Regions from separate parts of the Homo sapiens genome. Here regions 2, 3, 4 and 5 are each linked to region 1. Evidence: fine-mapped QTL for protein levels in blood plasma. Region 1 holds a variant in brackets. A gene starts in each other region. All regions are shown on their forward strands. Distances are between the middles of the regions.

Region 1 (4,149 bases):
GATTCCATCAGAAATGTATGAAATAAGAATTTCCCAGCTCCCTTCTACTCCCACTTACCAAAGAAGCAGAAATTCTATCAAATATCAGGAATAATTTTTTTTAATGCAAATTCCTCTTTGAAACCCTTTGACCCTCAGGAGATTTAAATTCTATGAGGTGAAAAAGAGAACATACCAGACCTTTAAAACAGTAGATGAGAAATATTTGCATTTCTGAAAGAATTTTCATATGATTCATGAGTCATCTTCCTCTTTGGCCACCTAATACAAATTCAGGATGTTATTTATTGTCTCTATAAAAACCATTTTTTCCATATATCTCTGGATAATTCTTTTGCCACAACCTAAGGGGTTATGATACTTTTCCTTTCAAGAATCAAAGTACTAAGTGTGGCAAAAAGACAACAAGTATCCTCTGGACAGAAACCAAATAAGCTCACTCAAAATTAAAGAAGAGAGTTAAAGAACTTTCATGTTTTTCATGCCAGATACTATTGAAAACATCTCATAATTAGCTGATTCAGTCCTCACAACTGTCCTAGGCATAGGGTAGGTATAAACGGCCTCATTTTGTAGATGAGAAAAATGGGGTGAGAGAAATGAAGTCATTTACCCAAGGTCACAGTGCCAGAAAATGGCAGAACCAGGATTCTAACGAGCAGTTGGACTCAAAACCTAAATGAGTGTCCCCAAACCAGAATTTCGTAAGCACTGGTGAATTCTGAGCAAGCACAGGAGAATCTTTATTTAGTATAATTAAAGAATGGCAAATTCTATTAGGCCAGAAATTCCTTTCTATGACAATGCATTGCTGTAAACCTCTCTTTAAACTCATCTACTTCCTTTTCTTATAAATTTCATATGTATGTTTATATACAAATTATATATAAACAGAAGCAACATGATGTGTATGTGCATGTATATATATGTAGATAGATAGATAGATAGATAGATGATAGATAGATAGATAGATAGATAGATAGATAGATAGATAGATAGAGGAATTGGCTCACATGAATATGGAGGTTGGCAAATCCAAAATCTGCAGGTTGGGCCAGCAGACTGGAGACCAGGGGAGAGTTAATGGTGCAGTTCACTACTGAAGGCCATCTTCTGGAAAATTCTCCCTTCTCTGGGGAAACTATTGTTTTGTTCTATTGAAGTAATTGGATGATGTCTACTCACATTATGGAGAGCAAGCTGCTGCACTCAAAGTCCACTAATTTAAATGCTATTTTCATCCATACTCCCCTATCCAGAAATATCCAGAATAATGTTTGATCACATATCTGAGCAGCATGACCCAGCCAAGTTAACACATAAAATTAACTATCATATATATGATAAATATATATATATGTACACACACACGTATCTCATATATAACCCCTCTCTATATAAACTTTTCATAAAGGAAAGGTGATATTTTTGTAGTACCTTAGGAATTACGAATAGGAACATTTGAAATCACTGTTGAAGGGCTAAACACATAGAAAGCATTGGGTCAAATTCTGTACTGACCACCAGACATAACCAGGAATTTAGATTCATGAATAACTTCTGACTATTAGCTTTTCTTGTGATTCATTTCTTTCTCCTAAAGCTTGAGGGCAAACAAAACAAAAATCAGGTTAATCAAATAAAATGATACATTTCTGCCTATGAATTATCTAATTTATCTATTTGTCTGTCAGTTCATCTATCTACTGAGACTTAGAAGAAGGTCTACATTCTTTCTCAGCCAGAACTGAAAATAGGGCAGACTGGATAATACAGGCTTCTTTGCTTTCCAAAAAGAGAATGACCAGACCTCCCACTACCCCGCTTAAAAGTTATGTACAAATGACTTAGTTAAAGTGATGCAAGTTTTCCAAAATGTTGTGGGTAGCCTTGATGATGAGGAAATTATCGAAATACCGGTGCAAACAATCTCTAGAGAGTACACCAGACAATCCATTAGGGTGCAAGTAGAATATGCTGTATTAGGATATATGCATTCTCTTTATATGTAGTTTTAGTTTAAAATATTTTAAAAACATATATTGACACTTCCCTTATGATTGTCAGCCAATCACCTGTCATGTACAATGTGAAAAGGGCCTAAGGGACAAGTAGAAGATACACAATGACAACGCAACAGCACCATTGCTCATTGGTTTGCTATATATTGCAGAACACAGGTGCCTTGTTAAGTGAATTTACATATTCTGGCTCTGATTTTAACCTAACTAGTCCTCACAAAATGGGTAGGTGACTAAAAAATCTATTCCAGCAAA[G/T]AATTGAAGGTGTTAATAATGCATGTACGAGGGAACAATTAGAAAACTGCAGGGCTAACACTTTTATTCCTGCCACAAGCTGTTGCCAGAAACACTAAAATTACCAAGAATATTATTTGAAATATCTATTTATATACATTATCGTTATATAGGTGGCTAATATACAAAATAATTTTTTCGTGAGATAGAGTCTCACTCTGTTGCCTAGGCTGGAGTGCAGTGGCGTGGTCTCAGCTCACTGCAAACTCCTCCTCCCGGGTTCAAGCAATTCTCCTCCTCAGCCTCCTGAGTAGCTGGAATTACAGGCACCTGCCACCAAGCCTGGCTAATTTTTGTATTTCTAGTAGAGACAGGGTCTCACCATGTTGACCAGGCTGGTCTCGAACTCCTGACCTCATGATCCACCTGCCTCAGCCTCCTAAAGTGCTAAGATTACACATGTGAGCCACTGCGCCCCGCCACAAAATAAATGTTTAAACTACTACTTTAAAATATTTCATGTTATTGGATGGGCGTGGTGGCTCACGCCTGTAATCCCAGCACTTTGGGAGGCCAAGGCGGGCGGATCACGAGGTCAGGAGTTCAAGACCATCCTGGCTAACACGGTGAAACCCCGTCTCTACTAAAAATACAAAAAAATTAGCAGGGCGTGGTGTCGGGTGCCTGTAATCCCAGCTACTTGGGAGGCTGGGGCAGGAGAATCTCTTGAACCCGGGAGGCGGCGGTTGCAGTGAGCTGAGACAGCACCACTGCACTCCATCCTGGGCAACAGAGTAAGACTCTGTCCCCCTCAGAAAAAAAAAAAATCGATGTTATTGATAAATTGCAAAAGTGGCCACAAATTCTATCTATCCCTGTATGCTTATCCATTCACAATGTGACTTTGCAACTACTCCCATGAAGAGGTAAATTCTGTTCTATTCCTTGAATCTGAATTTGACCATGTGGACAAAGAAATGGTTGTAAAAATTATACAAGAAGACTTAAACAGATATTTCAATATGTTTATTGAAATAATCCTGTCCCTGCTTCATCATTATATATCACGTGTGTTGGGGCAGATAATTTGTCTTTTTAGTTCATTGGCTTCTAAAACTAGAAGAGCAATATCGGAAGAGACTCATCTGATCTGATTTAGATTATGAGATCCCAAACCATTATTAGATGAGACTGTGGTGCAAGGATCTCATCTGCAGAAGGAATAGTTTCAGGCCTAGATCACTTTGGCTCTAAACATAACAGTTTGCCCCTTGCAAACCCACAGGGAATACCTGCTGGATGACAAGAGATGTGTGTCCCAACCACCGCTGTCACCCAGCCAACAGCTGATCAACCTTCAGGAGCAGAGCTGTCAGAGCAAGTTTTACCTGCTCAGAGGCACTCTGAACTAAATGAGCCAGTTGAGAAAAGCATCCAATTGATCCCAGCCAAAATAGTTGACTTAAAAATTATAAAATAAACATAACTGTTATTCCAGGCAAATGAGTTGGCTAGAGGGTGGTTTGTCTACTTGTCTGTGTCTACACCAGTTGGATACTAAAATTCAATATAGCTTGATATCTGCTGAGGCAAATCTCTCCCCACCATACACACCTTTTCCTTCAGAAGAGTCCTGGGGCTATTCTTGGCTTTTTTTTCAGCTCTATACATTTTGAATGAGCTTATCAAGTACAGTGGAACCAAAAAATACCCTGTTGAAATTTTCACTGGAATTGTGTTAAATCTATAGATACATTTAGAGGAACTGGCATATTTTTAATGTTGACTCTTTCTATCCATAAATAACATTTCATACATCTTTTAGATTTATTTATAAATATATTATTTTGTTGCTAATCTAAATTAGATTTTAAAAATTCTACTTTTCCAAATG
Region 2 (4,149 bases), not on the chromosome of region 1:
GTCTTCCAAGAACCAAAGGAAAAGTTCCACAAAAGTGAATCCTGCCATACAAACAGTCCCAGCACTTTCCAGCTCCTTTTTCATTCCAGATTCAAAGGTCTGGCACCAGGATGAGCTGAAGTGTAAGGCATCCACCACTCTCCCCCTGCTCCTACTCCCATCCCACCCAAAGCCTTGTCTAGAGAAAGCTCCTCCCAGCCTCAGGCCCAGGAATGGGAATCTCTGTGGGTCACACATCAGTAGGGAGGTCTTTCCCGATCCTTTTCTATGCTACTCCAGGAGTCAAAGCGTCTCCTGGGACTTTTCAGGGCGCTTCAGAAGAGCCCTGGGCCTAAACCAGCTCAACCAAGCTGCAGGGACCCAGCCTCCTGAGAAAAGTGAATGTGAGCCCGGTGCATTCAGAGGAGAATGAAGCCTTCACCCAGAACACACTCTGGGAAGATGTCCCAGGCCCAGGGGGAGGGTTTGTACTACCAGACCTAAGTCACCTAAACTGACACCAAGTCTCATCCATCCCAACCATTCCATTCCGGGTCAGAGGGGTCATCGATTTAACCAGCAAGGCTGCCCATCCAACGGTTGCTCCCTCTGCTCCCTGGAAGGGCCTCCTCGTGGGCGTTCTGTACCTACAGGTCTTGTTCCGTTCTGGGAACTGCCAGTGGTGGCAAGAGGTGGAGCAACGGGTGCCAGGGCAGGGAGAGGTGAGTCTGGGAGGGAAGCAGAGGCAAGATCCATGGGGCTTTAGAGACTTTGCCAAAGCAGTGCGACTGCTCCCAGGTTGTTGTCAGCCGTCAAGAGTGAGTGCACCTCCCTGGGCAGACTTCTGCTGCCCCAGTGCCCAGGAATAGGCAGGGGTTTGCCGCAAAATGAATGACACCTGGCAGACAATAAGCTGAAGCTTTCATTAGCAGCTTAAGCTGAGGACTATCTATGCAACCGATACTCCCTGTGTGCTCCCCGGGACTGCTTAATGTGAGCCCTTGTGGAGCGATTGGCACCAAGAAAGCAAGGACTAAGTCAGAAGTTCAAGTCCCAGCCTTGCCACAGCCTCAGGGTGCCCTCGAGCACAGCAAGCCTCAGTTTTCCCATCTGTACAATGAGAGAGGTACACAAGGTAGACTCGAAGGCTCTTTGTTGCCAGGGCCCTGTGTTCCTTTGAGTGTATGTGCTTCTCAGGCCCACAGAGGTCCTTTGTGTTTCGTATGTGAACTGCTCTCTAGGAAACCCATGTAACTGTCTGTGTCCTGGGGCACATACATGAGGACTCATGTGGGCCGTATTGTGTGTTTGTGCCGGGGGGAGGGGAGACCCCAGAACAATGTCCCCCACCCCACCCCCCTCCTCAATAGGCGGAAGCCACTGGCTTCCTCCCTTTCCTGCCTCCTGCCTCCTTTGTGCCAGCAAGACTGAGTACTGGAGAGAGACAGGGGATGGGAAAAATCAGTCCAGCTGTCCCCAGGTCTGCCCTTACCATAACCTTCCCCCCACCTCAAGTGACTCCTCCCAGGCCACACCCATCCCCAGCCTTGTGGGGGCCAGATTGGGGGGCCTAGAGGCTCAAAGGCAGAATGAGTCCTCCCACCCCCTACCCTGCCACCCCTCCCACCCAAGCCACCTCATTTCCTCTTCCTCCCCAGCACCGACCCACACTGACCAACACAGGCTGAGCAGTCAGGCCCACAGCATCTGACCCCAGGCCCAGCTCGTCCTGGCTGGCCTGGGTCGGCCTCTGGAGTATGGTCTGGCGGGTGCCCCCTTTCTTGCTCCCCATCCTCTTCTTGGCTTCTCATGTGGGTAAGTCTCCCCTGAGTCCCTCACCCCATTTCTAGGCCCCGAGGCCCTGATTTCTACCCAAGAAACCCTATTTTATCATAGAGACAGAAAGTAGGATGATGGTTGCCATGGGCTGCAGGGAGGAAGAAATGGGGAGTTTTGTTTAAAAGGTACAGCGTTTTTACAAGATTTTTACTTGGTTTTACAAGATTAAAAGAGTTATAAACATGGGGCCGGGTGCGGTGGTTCATACCTGTAATCCCAGCACTTTGGATGGCTGAGATGGGAGGATCAATTGAGGCCAGGAGTTCAAGACCAGACTGGTCAACATAGTGAGACCCCGTCTCCATTGTGTTTAGACTTTCGTCTTTTTCAAAAAAAAAAAAAAAGGATGGATGGTGGTGATGGTGGGACAACACTAGGAATGTATTTAATCACATTGGGTTATATGCTGCTTACAAATGGTTAAGATGGCAAAATTTGCCGGGTGTGGTGGCTCACGCCTGTAATCCCGGCACTTTGGGAGGCCGAGCGGGTGGATCACAGGGTCAGGAGATCGAGACCAGCCTGGCAAACATGGTGAAACCCCATCTCTACTAAAAATACAAAAATTAGCCGGGCGTGGTGGCAGGAGCCTGTAATCCCAGCTACTTGGGAGGCTGAGGCAAGAGAATCGCTTGAATCTGGGAGGCAGAGGTTGCAGTGAGCTGAGATCGCGCCACTGCACTCCAGCCTGGGCGACAGAGCAAGACTCATCTAAAAAGAAAAAAAGATGGTAAAATTTATTTTATATGCATTTCACCACAACAAAAAATTTTGGAAAACAAGCCCTATCATCACTGCCATCACTTTGATCCACTAGAAAGTGAGATCAAGGCCAGGAAAACACAGGCAAGTGCTAGAAATCACTGCAACCTGGGATCAGGGGAGGAGTGAGGAGTAGCCGCTGACTGTGTTGGATCTGAGGATCTGTGGAGGGCCATTTTCAGGGGGTGTTCATAGGGTAATTGTGTTGGATTCACTCAGTTGTTCACTGGACAAACATTTATTGAGCACCAACAATATTCCAGGAGTTGTGCTAAGTGCTGGGCCATTAGTTGAGAGGCTGGCAACACCTAGTCTGTACAATGAGATTAAATGATGCCAGCCTCCTATGGTTGTTATGGGGTTTAAATGAGAAAATGATGCAGAGCAGTTGGCACAGTGCACTGTGCTTGGTAAGGATTTCTGAGTAGGTGGCAGCTGATTCCTTCAGTCTGCTGGTCAGCCGATTAGAACACAGAGGCTGCCTTTGAGTGGTTCATGGTCTAGTGCAGAACACAGGACAGGGGAAGAGGGCTAAACAGGGACAGACACAGGAGCTCTAGAGGAGCACTGAGGAGGAGTTCAGCTTACACTGCCTCAGGTAGGAGACAAAAAGGGAATCAAGGAAGATTTCACTAAGAGGGGTGGTCTTCATTCCAGGCAGCCAGAACATAAAAAATGCAAGTCTCAGAGGCATGGAGGTGCATGGGAGAGAAGGTGCCTGTTAGGAACACAACAGGAGGGATAGCGTGGGAGCATCACGGGGCTTAGGAGCACGAACATTATCCTGAGGGCAATAGGGAGCCATGGGAGGTCACAGGCAAGAAAGTCACAAGGTCAGGTTTGGTCTTAGATCACCGTGGAGGATGAGTTGCAGAAGGAGGGGCTGTGGCTGTTGGGATGGTCTAGGTGAGTAAGGATGAGGGCTGAACAAAGGCAGGCTGGGGGGGTGGGGATGAAGTCAAGAAGCGTTCAGGAAACAATGTGCAGAATTCTATGACTGATGAGGCAGGCAGCACAGTGCTCAGAGATGTGGACTTTAGAATCAGACAACCTGGCCCTGCCACTCACTAATTGTATGACCTTGGGCAAGTTACTTAACTTCTCTGAGCCTCCCTTTCCTGGCTATAAAACAGGGATAATAACATCCACCTCCCAGGATAGCTGGGATGGTAAAATGAAACAATATCAGTAAAGTGCCTGGTGCATAACTGGCAGCCAATAAACATTCATTATTATGACAATGGGAGTAGAGATGACTCCATAGTTTGTGTCTCAAGTGGCGGGTGCTGTCCAGTGAGTCAGGGAGCACTGGAGAGGAGCAGATTTGGGAAAAGCTGATGGAAATGCAGGTCCAAGCTGAAAGACCGTTCCCGAGTTACTGACTCAGAGGTGATGGTTAAAACTGGGGGAGTGGGCGAGCTTGCTCAAAGAAGCCAGTAGAATAATTACCATGATCCTCCTCTGTAACTGGAAAGAATATCCACTTCACTGGTTGTGAGGATCCAGTGGAAAATGGGGGTTGGTATGTGGTGGGCGGTCAGTAAATGCCAGCTTCGTTTGCTCATGGTA
Region 3 (4,149 bases), 14 Mb after region 1:
CCCAGGAGTAACAGTGCAATTTGACATAAACAGCTCCTTGCCTATCTGGCTGCCCCAGCCAAGCTGGGTCCTACACAAGTTGCTATAAGAGCTTTCTACAACAAGATCTGAACTACTGAAAGATTCAGATCACTTGACTTTTTAGGTGAGTAACAGTCTATTAAGGCTAAAACTAAGTATTGGCTTGACTTTTTTCACTGATGCTCTTCAGTGAAAAGCACAATGGTTAAATAATGAGGAAAATTGCCCACTCAAATGTTTAGTGGTGCTTACTGATGTATATCATTACTGATTGTGATTCTGGCACATACTAGTCATATCTAACCTTGGCCAAATCATTTCACCTCTCTACGCCTCCATTTCTACCTTTGTAAAATGGAGAGGTGTCTTCCATGTCTACTTCACTGGGTTGCTGTGCAGATCAAAGGGAAAAAAGCATGTGAAAATTCTCAATAGAAAGGTGCAGTCAAAGAGTGTAGTTATTTTGCATGTGTTCACTAGTAAGATTAACATGTGGAAAGAAGATTTTTTGTGGAAGATAAGCAGCATTTTAAAGTCATTCAGAAATGAGGAAAAATACCTTTTCTTCTTTCAATTATCAAATTATAACATTTAAAACCAACTACACTCTTCCCTTGCAGCTGCTCTGTCTACCAAAAGTGAAACCTGAAAACTCCCTCCCACACCAACTCCTACCAACCTTCTACAGTGAAACCAGGACACCCCCACAGTGGCCCAAGTTCTCTATAACTTCTATAGGAACCTAGATGTTGAAGAGTCTGTTCTCTAACTCGTAGTGTCTCTTACAGCCCACACATCTTGAAGATAAATACAGACATACATCACAGACGCACCACTGTAACTGTAGGCATATTATATTTTTGAAGTGCCTAATCATCGAAAGTGACAGAAAGCAATAAACTGTCCTAATCTATGCCACTGGCAATGTGGACCTAAATGAGTTAGCGTTCTTATCTTAAAAAAAAAAATTAAGAGAGAAGAGGCTGGGTGCAGTGGCTCATGCCTGTAATCCCAATGCTTTGGGAGTCTGAGGTGGGAGAATTGCTTGAAGACAGGAGCTCAAGACCAGCATGGACAATATAGCAAGACTCTATCTCTACCAAAAATTTTAAAAATTAGCCAAGCATAGTGGCGCATATCTGTAGTCCTAGACACTCAGGAGGCTGAGTGGGAGGACTGCTTGAGACCTGGAGTTACAGGCTGCAGTGAGCTACGATTGCACCACTGCACTCCAGCCTGGGCAACAGAGCAAGACCCTGTCTCAAAAAAGGGGGTTGGGGAAGAGAATAAGATAAAGAGAACCTAACTGACTTTGATTGCTGCTAGTATGTATTTGATTTATCCTGCCTTGTTCAAAAAACAGGAGGAAATAAGGAAATGGACAGTAAGACAAATTATAGAGATCTGTATATTGTAGTAGGATACAAAGTACAACAAGCAAGACACCGGAAAAAAGGATAATAAAGTAAACTAGATATGGGAGTAACCCATATTTAGCAACCCCCTATATTTATTATTGCAATTGATTTGTATTGCCCCAGAAGAAAGACAAAAAATAAACTCAGGAAGAGCTGAGACCAGGTTTCTCACTGTTCTCCCAAAGAGAATTCAAACTTACCGGCCACTAAGAAGATAGTCAAAATCAACAGTAGCCCTAGGTTAGCAGTTCTCCAAGGGCAGAGCATTTCTGTTTTCTCTTTTTCTGCCCTTCACTCAGTACTTTTCCTCCACACAGGTACAGAAGGAACTGTGCGCATGGTGAGACCCTCTCTGGTCAACTTCTCAGTACAGGATCCTCTTACCCCATCAACAGTGGGGCACTCCCTTCCTTCTAGCCCCTTCCTTCACGTCTATGTGGTTTAGCCTGGTTAGTAACTTGGACGAACAGAAGCTTTTCTCTGGAACTTGACACAGCAATAGATTTCCTGTATGAAGCCCTGAAGCAAAGACGGAGGAAGCAGATTGATTGAATTATCTCTCAGCTCATTGGTTCTCCTCTCACTTCTGCTGTACACAGACAAACTTTACAGTAAGGCATTGAACGTGTCCAAGATAAACAGATTTGTCTAAACTTGCACCAAAAAGTAAAACAGAATATTGATCTACTTTGGCCCATCCTTGTAAATTTCCCAATTATGATGACTTTTAGAGGCTTTCTCCAGGTTGAAGAGCTTTACGGCCTTAGTATTTGAGTCTGGAATACAATATGTTTTCTTGAAAATTATTGTGTGAAATTCCTGTCTATAATGGGAGTCAACACACAACCCTGTAAACATCATATGTGTATTAGTTTCCTATTGCTACTGTAAGAAATTACCACAAACTCAGTGGCTTAACACAACACAACATTTATTATCTTACAGTTCTGGTGATCAGAAGTCTGAAATGGATCTTAGGGGACTAAAATCAAGGTGTTGGAAGGGCTGCACTCCATCTGGAGGCTCGGGCAGAATTTGCTCCCTGCCTTTTCCAGCGATTTGAGAATGCCTGCATTTCTTGGCTTGCAGCTACATCATTCGGACCTCTGGTCCACTGTCACATCTTCTCTGACTGTGACCCTTATGCCTCCCTTTTATAAAGACCTTGTGATTATTTTTGGTCCACCCAAATAATCCAACATGATCTAATTTCAAGATCTTAATTTAATCACATCTGCAAAGTCCTTTTTGCCACACAAGGTAACATTCACAGGTTTCGGTAATTCGGACATAGGTATCTACCTTGTTGGGGGTGAGGGCATTCTGTTTATCAGAACTCAGTACTTATTGCCATTCAGTTTCACCTTTGGAAAATTAGACTGATCATTTTAACCAAATTACAAATAATCACCCATCTCTTAGTTGCCACACATCTGGAATTCAGACTCCCCCTAACCAAAAAAAAAAAACAACAACAACAACAAAAAAACCTCTTCCTTACTGTTGCTAGTTACTATGTTACTATGCTTTTAAGTTATGTCTGAGAGAGGGAAAAATCTTCTATGTGCTGAGAATTTTCTGCCCCAAGGCAAAACTGTACAGGAAGGGGAAGAAAACATTGCAAACAGGAAAAAGATTAAACAGCATGCATTTTTTTTCTCAGTTAGCAGTTTCATCTTCCTTCTTGCCAAACATTATAAATATTTCCCCCCTTCCCCTTCTCAAGCTTTTTTTTCCAGTTAATTAATTTGATGAAGACAGTGAAACCAGATCCTTGAGGGCATGGAACACTTAAGGGTATGAGCTGTGACAATGGGAAGACCAAAACAAAAATGTCTTCTCTTCTGTCTAATGTTTCACCAGGTGTCGGAAAATTAGTGAGAATACATCATTTAAAATACAGATAATATTCTGGTTTTCCACTACATAGAAGTGAAAGTTGGCCGGGAGTAGTGGCTCATGTCTGTAATCTTAGGACACTGGGAGGCCGAGGCGGGCAGATTGCCTGAGCTCAGGAGTTCGAGACCAGCCTGGGCAACATGACAAAACTCCAAACTCCATCTCTACTTAAAAAAAAAAAAAAAAATTAGCCAGGTGTGATGGCACTCATCTGTAGTCCCAGCTACTTGGGAGGCTGAGGCATGAGAATCGCTTGAACCCAGGAGGCAGAGGTTGCAGTGAGCAGAGAGAAGTTAAAGTTAAAATTCACACTCGCTTAGGATACAGATAGACATAGGGTTAAGTCTCTGTTGTGCAATTACTAGTCCAGTGATACTGGGAAAGTTTCTTACTCAAGTCTGTATCTGTTTATATTATATTGACATTAGCTTTTTCTCATGTCATCAAAAATTCTTGGAGATCATTTATTTTAATATCTGCTCAATGACATAGCCAAAACTAAACCACAGAAGGGCTAAATGGCCTGTGGCCTCAAAACAACTTATTGGCACGGCTGGGAATAAAATGTGTTATATTTCGTAGCCCTGTGTTCTTTTCACTCAACTCCTCTACTTTGAAATTTCAGGCAACAACTTTCATAGACACACTCCAATGCACTCACCTGAGGTCAGACCACAATCTGCAATCAGCAGTTTAAGAATCAAGTGATGGGTATCAAAAACCATAAAATTCACTAAATAGATTTGGCAGGATGACAGTTTCTCTCCCTGGTCCCTCATCCTCTCCACCCCCAAATCACATGCCTGTAACC
Region 4 (4,149 bases), not on the chromosome of region 1:
GAGCAGAAGGTCCCCAGGCCCAAGTAAAGTGGGCCTGATCCCCACATCCTGCCTGCAGTGACTTGCATCCCTGGGCCACACATCTGTCCACATCTGGGCCTTTGTGACCCAGGTCACAGCAAGGGCAAACGTCCTGAGACCAGGCCACTCCAGATGCCCAGCAGACCCTGCTCCTGCATGTCCCTGAGCTGGTAGCCACAGTGCAGAGGTGCCAATGGCCTCTCTCTAGACTAAGCCCCAAGAGACATCTGTGACCTACCCTCTCCACTGGGGCAAGACTGTGGAACTGCAGCAGGCATCTGGGTCTTGGAGTCCAGCCCAAGCACACACAACCCACACAACCTCGGGGCTTGCCAGCTTGTGCCATGGCTATGCTTGTGCCATGGCTATGCTTGTGCCATGGCTATGCTTGGGGAAACTGAGGTGCAGGGAGGGGAAAGGAGGGGGCCCAGGTCACACAGAAAGGACTTTACGGCAGAGGCAGGACAAGAGTCTGGTTCTATGATCAATAGCACACTTTTAAGGGGTCAGCTTCAGGATGCTCAGGCTTCTGGCCTGCTCCCACCGGACCAGCTGCCCTGACACCCGACTGCAGCTCCCACCGGACCAGCTGCCCTGACACCCGACTGCAGCTGAGGGCTTGTGCTTCCGCCATGGCATCCCCCATCAAGCTGGGGGCTCCCGGGGTCTTCAGCCTAGCAGGGGGTACAGCAAGGTGCAGGGCTCACGGAGGGATGACCTCTGTCTTCATTGCCATCTCCCCACCAGCCAAACCCAGGTCCAGCCCAGGACACCCCTCTCCATGGGGCGCCCAACTAATGCCCTCTCTCCTCTTCATAACTGGGTCACTAAGAGTCACTACTTACTGCAGGGAATAGCTTCCTCACCCTTCACCCCACGTCCCTCTGTGCTCCACCCGGGAGCACCAGGACACTGGCCTCTCCTGGTTCTCCTTATACCTGCAGAATGTTCCCTGGATCCCTGGAAGCCCCCTTGCCCTCTGGGCCCCTCCTCCAGGGTTCCCCTCCCGGGTCTCTCTCTTCCTCTCCAGCTACTCAGCCCAGCTCAGACACTGCGCCCAGGTGCCTGTCCCATGTCTCCTCCAGGATAAGCGTCTCCCATTCTACAGCCCTGCAGTCCAACCAAGGTCTACCAGCCACTCGACAAATACATCCTGAGCACCTGTGGGAGCCTGGTCCTGGGCTGGGTCCAGGAGGGCCAAGGGCAGCGCCCTGATCTGGCCTGCCCGACTCGGAGGCCCAGATAGATGTTCTCCTCCCTCCTCCCCTGGTTGAGCCAGACCTGCCCCCTCTCCTGTCCTCTGCCCTTCAGCCAGTGGACATACAGGTGGTGAGCAAAGGCAGGCTTTGTCAGGCTTACTTTGGGCCTCCTGGGGACCTTGGGGAAGTGACACATGTCCTTGGTCTAAGCTTCTCCATGTGTAAAATGGGTCTGACACTCCCTGTGAGAATTACAAGCATGTAAAGCCAGTATTTAATTCCTATGGCGTGCAGAAATGTTGAGGTCCCCGTCGCTGACTTCAGGGCTTCAGACACTGGAACCCCTGACCCCGCCCTTACACCCTTTGATTTCCAGGGACACCAGCTCCGTGGGGACTCCCAGCTCATCTTCTCAGCTTCCTCCCTGACATCTCCATCCACTCCCTCTGCCGCCCGCTCATCCCCCACAGTCCCTCTTTCCAACCCCTCCGCCTCCGCTTCAGGTCTGCGTCTCTCCCCGCCAGAGCCACATCCCAACACAAACCGAACCCCGCCTCTCCTGTGCAGGGGACCCTCCCGCGGGGGCCTCTGCTCCTCAGCTGGCCTTCGAGGCCCCTGTCCCCTCAAATCCGGGGACCCCTGGCCTTCCGCCCCTTCTGCGGCGCTGACAGCCCGCGATTCGCCTCCTCAAGATTCGTCTCAAGTGCCAGCGTGCACCTGCACCCGTCCGCCTCGGGCGCGCGGTGGTCCCCGGCCCCTGTCCCCGCCGTCGCCGGCCACGGGGAGGGGGAAGCCCGCCTCGAGCGCCCTCTGGGGGACCGACCGCGAGCGGAGGCGCTGGGCGTCGGGAAGTGCGCACCCAAGTCCGGGGCCCGGCCGGGATGGATCTCCGGCGCGCGTGGGTCGGGACGGCGCGGCGCGGGGACCCCGCGGGGAAGCGAGTAAGGGCGCGAAGGATCCGGGCTCAGCGCGCAGCCCGGCAGGGCCCGGCTCCGAGGACGCGGAGCCACCGACGGAGACGCGGATTCAGGGGCCGGGAGAGCTACCCCTGCGCCGAGGCGCGGCCCGGCCGCCCTGGCCCTGACCCGGCTGCGGTCCCCGCCCGCCCCTTCCTCATCCCGAGGTCCCGCGCCCCAAGCGCCGTGCTCCCCTCAGGCGTCCGCGCACCAGGGCCACCGTGTCCCCCGCCCGTACCCGGCGGAGCGGTCTCAGCGCCCGCCCCAGGTGCGCGGTACCCCCTCCCCGGCCAGCCCCACGCTCGGGCGGGTGGCCCGTTCGCCGCGCTCACCGTCCAGGAGTCCCAGGCAGAGCCACAGTCGCAGGCACAGCGCGGCGCCCCGCTGCATCTCCGGCCGCTGCGCGTGGGTCCGACCCGAGCGGCCGCGGCTCGGGGCTGAAAGTGTCCGCGCGGGCGCCGGCTGGCCTGGGGCGGGGCGGGGCGGGGCGGGGGCCGGAGGCGGGCCCGGGATTCAGGCCGCTCCCCGCGCCCCCCTCCCCCCGTCCCTCCCAGCCCGCCGCGGGGCGTCCGGTGCACCCGAGCAGTGCGCGCTCCGCACCACAGGGTCCGGGCCCCCTCCTGGGCGGCTCCGGGCGCGGGGACGCGGGTAACGCAGACGGTCTCGCGATGCGCTCCGGAGGTGATGGAGCCTGGTGGGCAAAGGGGAGCAAAATGCGGCACGCGCTCTTTTCCGTCCTTTCTTTCCATCGGTAAAATCTAGACTAAACAAGAAAGCAATCCTTGTAAAAATAGTATGTTACATCTTTGAAAATAGTGGCACCAGCCGGCGTAACATAGGGAGACCCAGTCTCAAAAATAAACAAGCAAATAAATAAAATAATACGCCGAGCTTGGTTGTGCGCGCCTGTAATCCCAGCTTCTCGGGGGGGCTGAGGCAGGAGAATCGCTTGAACCCGGGAGAAGGAGGTTGCAGTGAGCCGAGATCGCGCCACTGCACTCCAGTCTGGGAGCCAAAAAAAAAAAAAAAAAAGCAAAAACAAAACCCGTTCAGCAGTGTTTACCTGCACAGTGTCGACGGACAGTGTCGACGGAAGCCGCACCCGTGAGCGGGACACCCGGGATGACCGACCCCCTCCCTGCAGGCCTGGCCTCCTAGCTTTAGAACTCCCCCAGATGTTTTGTTCTCAGCTCAATCAGGACCCGCCCCCACCTTTTTAATAAAGCGACACTTTGCTTTTGCTTTCTGACTTGGCAACCCTCTTACAGACTTCCGTTCTCTTTTCAGTTTGTCTCTAGAATTTTCCTGTTTAATAATGAAGCCCATGACCATGACTGTCTCAACCTCCTTCCCTGCTTTTCGTTTCATTCACATTTTCCATCCCCCCACCCCCGCCCCCCAAAGCCCTTTCATCCTCGCCAAAAAGCAAGAGTAGATTTTCAATAACCACTACCAGCTCTCTCCAATCCAGGTAAGAAGTGGCTATATTATTAAGCTGGAATCACAAATCAGTGCGGATAGTGTAGATAATTTAACAAATAAGGTTGGGGAAACTAGGTAACCAAGCGATACATGAAGTTAGGTATTTATCAATCATATATTGATTTTTTTTAGCTTTGAAAGATTATGAGATGTAACACACTTATGGAAAGTACATAATATATCAGCATATTATAAACCTGAATTTTAAAGCAACAAATACCTGTGTTTCCATTCTCCAGGCCAAGGGATGTAGAATGACATCCCCACATCCCCTCACTTCCCATCACAAACCCCTCACCAACCCCAGAAGATGCCCACTACCCTGGCATTATCATTTCCCTGCTTTTGTTTATCATTTTATCATCAAAATATATGTTTTGCTTTTTTTTTCAGAATGTACTTTTTTTTTTTTTTCTCAAAGTCTCTCTTTTGTTGCCCAGGCTGGAGTGCAGTGGGACGATCTCACTGCACTGCAATGCAACCTCTGCCTC
Region 5 (4,000 bases), not on the chromosome of region 1:
ACTTCTCACTATCTGTGTGACCTTGAGCAAATCACTTAATCTTTCTGTGCCTCAATTTCCTCATCTGCAAAAAGGAATCAATAATAGTATCTTCCTCATAGGGTTTTTGTGCAGATTAAACAAATAAAATAAGTAAATATTTTAAAGCATTTAGAACAGTGCCTAGCACACAGTAACGCTATATAACTGTTTCATAAAATAAAAATAAATAGGCATAGCCAGGTGCAGCAGTTCAAGACTGTAGTCCCAACTAATCAGGAGGCTGAGGTGGGAAGATCACTGGATCCCAGGAGTTCGAGGTTGTAGTGTGCTATGATCATGCCTGTGAATAGCCACTGCACTCCAGCCTGGGAAATATAGTGTGACCCCATCTCAGTAAATAAATAAATAAATAAATAAATAGAGATGCATATGTAATAAAGCACTTAAAAATAAGAGAACAATAAACACAAAATTCCAGAGGGTGGCTACCTGTGGGTGGGAGGCAAGTAGCATAAAAGTGGACAAGTGGTGGCCAGGTGTGGTGGCTCACGCCTGTAATCCCAGCATTTTGGGAGGCCGAGGTGGGCGGATCATGAGGTCAAGAGATCGAGACTCTCCTGGCCAACATAGTGAAACCCTGTCGCTACCAAAAACACAAAAATTAGCTGGGCATGGTGGCATGCGCACCTGTAGTCCCAGCTACTTGGGAGGCTGAGACAAGAGAATCGCTTGAACCCAGCAGGCGAAGGTTGTGGTGAGCCAAGATTGTGCCACTGCACTCCAGCCTGGGCGACAAGAATGAAAACTCTGTCTCAAAAAAAAAAAAAAAAAAAAAAAGCAGATAAGTGGTGTTTGCAGTTTGGTGATACTCCATCCTTGTGCTGAGTGGCAGCTTCAGGTGTGTTTGGTATATTACTGTGCAGTATGATGTATATGTATGTTACATAAGCTTTTTATGCGTTACCTAGTAAATTTTACAAAAATAATAAAAGGGAAAAAGGGCCTTTCTACGTGCCTAGAAAGAAGAGGCTTCATGGGAATGTGAGCCATGGGTTAGGAAAGACCCCCTCGAACCGAGGCAGGTAGGAAGTGAGTGACTGAGATTCATTATGAACCCACCACGCCTGCCGGGGAGAACAGGGACTGTCCCTTCCCCTCTGCATCAGCTCAGATGGTCCAGATCACAGCCCACGTGGGCCCCTAAATAAGGAGGCAGCCCCACATTTCTACATCGGCCACCGAGATGGCAGAGCAGAGGAAGGAGAGAGGGGAGACAAATCAGGAAAGGAGCGCCAGGGCAAGTGCGTGAGCTCAGAGACCCAGCAGGGCAGGGCAGGAGCTTCACAGAGTGCAGAATGTCGAGCCACAGGAGCGCTGGGGATTCCCCAACCCCTGCACTTACCAGCGAGAAACTGAGACCCAGAGAGGGGAACGGACTAAAACTCAGACCTCGACACTGCCAAAATCCTTCCCATGCTGCCACGCTTCATTGGAGGGAAAGTGAGAAGCTCAACCTTACCCCTGTGGGCTCCAAGAAGGGTAGCTCTGGGATCCCGGGCAGGAAATTGGTGACAAGGTGACAAGGTGCGCGTGTCACAGCTGCCCAGTTCACGGCTTATTCAGTCTTCTCCCTCCCCCCACTCCCCACCAGAAGTGACGTGCTTCCTGTGCCCCGGTTCCCACCCTAAACTAGCCTCATTTAGCTCCACTCCCATTCCGCTTTTTTTTTTTTTAATTGTGGTAAAACGTACACAACAGAATTTACCATTTCAATTTTTTTTTTTTTTTTAGACTGAGTCTCAGTCACCCAGGCTGGAGTGCAGTGGTGTGATCTCGGCTCACTGCAACCTCTGCCTCCCGAGTTCACGTGATTCTTGTGCCTCAGCCCGCAGAGTAACCGGGACCACAGGCACCTGCCACCACGCCTGGCTAATTTTTGTATTTTTAGTAGAGACAGGGTTTCACCATGTTGGCCAGGCTGGTCTCGAACTCCTGACCTCAAGTGAACTGCCTTCCTCGGCCTCCTAAAGTGCTAGGATTACAGGCAAGAGCCACTGCGTCCAGCCAATTTTTTGTTGTGTTGTTTTTAAGACAGAGTCTTGCTTTTGTCACCTAGGCTGGAGTGCAGTGGCACAATCACAGTTCGTGGCAACCTCTGACCCCTGAGCTCAAGTGACCCTCCCTCCTCAACTTCCCAAGTGACTGGGACTACAAGTGTGCAGCCACCAGGCTTGGCTAATTTCTGTAGTTTTTGTAGAGACAGAGTGTTGCTTATGTTGCCCAGCCTGGTCTCAAACTCTTGAGCTCAAGCAATCCTCCCACCTCAGCCTCCCAAATGCTGGGAATGAGCCACCGTGCTAGGCCCATTTTAATTATGTTTAAGTGTACAGTTTGGGGCACTAAGTACATTCACATTGTTCTGCAACCATCACCACCATCCATCTCTGGAGCTCTCTCTTTCTCTTTTCTTTCTTTTTTTTTTTTTGAGATGGAGTTTCGCTCTGTTGCCCAGGCTGGAGTGCAGTGGTGTGATCTTGGCTCACTGTAACCTCTGCCTCCCAGGTTCAAACGATTCTCTTGCCTCAGTGTTTTTGTTGTTGTTGTTGTTGTTTGTTTGTTTGTTTGTTTTGTAGAGATGGAGCCTCACTCTGTCGCCCAGGCTGGAGTGCTGGAGTGCAGTGGTGTGATCTCGGCTCACTGCAACCTCCGCCTCCCGAGTTCAAGCAATTCTCCTGCCTCAGCCTCCTGAGTAGCTGGGACTACAGGTGCACGCCACCACGCCTGGTTAATTTCTTTTGTATTTTAGCAGAGATGGGGTTTCACCATGTTGCCTAGGCTGGTCTCAAACTCTTGAGCTCAGGCAATCCGCCCGCCTTGGCCTCCCAAAGTGTTGGGATTACAGGCATGAGCCACCGTGCCTGGCCTTGCCTCAGCCTCTTGAGTAGCTGGGATTACAGGCACGTGCCGACTGGCTAATTTTTGTATTTTTAGTAGAGATGGGGTTTCATCATGTCGGCCAGGCTGGTCTCGAACTCCTGACCTCAAATGATCCGCCCACCTCAGCCTCCCAAAGTGCTGGTATTACAGGCATGAACCACCACGCTTGGCCAGAACTGCCTTCCTTTTGAAGGCTGAGCAATATCCTATTGTGCGTGTGTGCCGCATTCTGTTCATGCATTCATATACTGATGGACACCTGTGTTGCTTCCACCTTTGGCTATTGTGAATAGTGCTGCTACAAACAGGGTTGTACAAATACCTGCTCAAGACTCTGCTTTCAGTTCTCTGGGGTATGTACCCAGAAGTGGAAATGCTGGATCATAATGGTAAAATATACACAACAAAATCTACCATCTTAACCTTTTTTCTTTTTTTTTTTTAGTGGTAATTCTGACTGGGCTTGGTGGCTCACACTTGTAAATCCGGCACTTTGGGAGGCTGAGGTGGGAGGATTGCTTGAGTCTAGGACTTCAAGACCAGCCTGGGTGACAAAGTGAGACCCCATCGCTACAAAAAAAAAAAAAAGTAATTTTGTTTAATTTTTGAAGATTTGCCATCCTGTTTTCCTTACTCCTCCCTTTGATGTGCAGTTTCTGTACTCACTGGGGCCTTCTGTGAATGAGGCAGTTCCAGGACAAGCTACCTTCTGGTCCCCCAAGTGAGGCAGGCGAAGATCACAGAGCTGAGGCTTCCTTGGCTGTGACACACCATTCCAAAAAAGCCTCTTATTAGTGACTAAGACCTATCACTTCATCAAATCTTATCAGACCTGCCACCTTGCCTAGCAATTTTACAACAATTACTCTAGAAGAGTGACTTTGTACAAACAAGCAGAAAGTATGAACACTGGGTGCAGAGGTGGGTGGCGGGCAGCCAGCTAGGCTCACCCACGAGCAGAGGATCTTGCTCCCACGGGCCAGCCTCACAGCACATTGAAACTTCTGGCTTAGCAAAGTCACAAATTAGACCATTCAGAGGCCAGGAGGACAGTCAAGGCCACACATTGCTCTGGCGCAAT

Direction of the effects. Positions count from the first base shown, and alleles are read on the strand shown. Strength reflects both the effect of a copy and how common the allele is.
As copies of G replace T in region 1, the plasma level of the protein whose gene starts at base 1,647 in region 2 goes up (strong association).
For the plasma level of the protein whose gene starts at base 1,952 in region 3, G is the high allele of the variant in region 1 and T is the other (strong association).
For the plasma level of the protein whose gene starts at base 2,621 in region 4, G is the high allele of the variant in region 1 and T is the other (strong association).
In carriers of allele G in region 1, the plasma level of the protein whose gene starts at base 1,612 in region 5 tends to be higher than with T alone (strong association).

The links. PIP is the chance, under the fine-mapping model, that this variant and not a neighbour inherited with it causes the effect. The UK Biobank Pharma Proteomics Project read protein levels with antibody pairs (Olink). The fine-mapping took linkage between variants from a reference panel, not from the people measured, so its PIPs are less certain.
Region 2: it holds the start of TIE1, and the variant in region 1 is fine-mapped to the plasma level of the TIE1 protein (UK Biobank, PIP 0.97).
Region 3: it holds the start of CD200R1, and the variant in region 1 is fine-mapped to the plasma level of the CD200R1 protein (UK Biobank, PIP above 0.99).
Region 4: FLT4 starts here. The variant in region 1 is fine-mapped to the plasma level of the FLT4 protein (UK Biobank, PIP above 0.99).
Region 5: ICAM2 starts here. The variant in region 1 is fine-mapped to the plasma level of the ICAM2 protein (UK Biobank, PIP above 0.99).

Annotation. Positions count from the first base shown.
Region 1 is chr3:98,695,780-98,699,928 of GRCh38, forward strand. No RefSeq gene overlaps it. Among named protein-coding and RNA genes, the nearest start is that of ST3GAL6-AS1, 35 kb to the right of the region's middle. The variant G/T (reference allele first, on the strand shown) is at 2,277.
Region 2 is chr1:43,299,336-43,303,484 of GRCh38, forward strand. It overlaps TIE1 (tyrosine kinase with immunoglobulin like and EGF like domains 1), which reads left to right and starts at 1,647. Exons shown (of 23, transcript NM_005424.5): 1 at 1,647-1,794. The coding sequence starts at 1,737. RefSeq lists a silencer at 1,487-1,586 and an enhancer at 1,617-1,706.
Region 3 is chr3:112,973,152-112,977,300 of GRCh38, forward strand. It overlaps CD200R1 (CD200 receptor 1), which reads right to left and starts at 1,952. Exons shown (of 8, transcript NM_138806.4): 1 at 1,640-1,952. The coding sequence starts at 1,706.
Region 4 is chr5:180,646,980-180,651,128 of GRCh38, forward strand. FLT4 (fms related receptor tyrosine kinase 4) reads right to left here and starts at 2,621. Exons shown (of 30, transcript NM_182925.5): 1 at 2,509-2,621. The coding sequence starts at 2,566.
Region 5 is chr17:64,019,022-64,023,021 of GRCh38, forward strand. ICAM2 (intercellular adhesion molecule 2) reads right to left here and starts at 1,612. Exons shown (of 5, transcript NM_001099789.2): 1 at 1,502-1,612. RefSeq lists enhancers at 1,232-1,351, 1,446-1,946, 1,692-1,781, 2,002-2,051.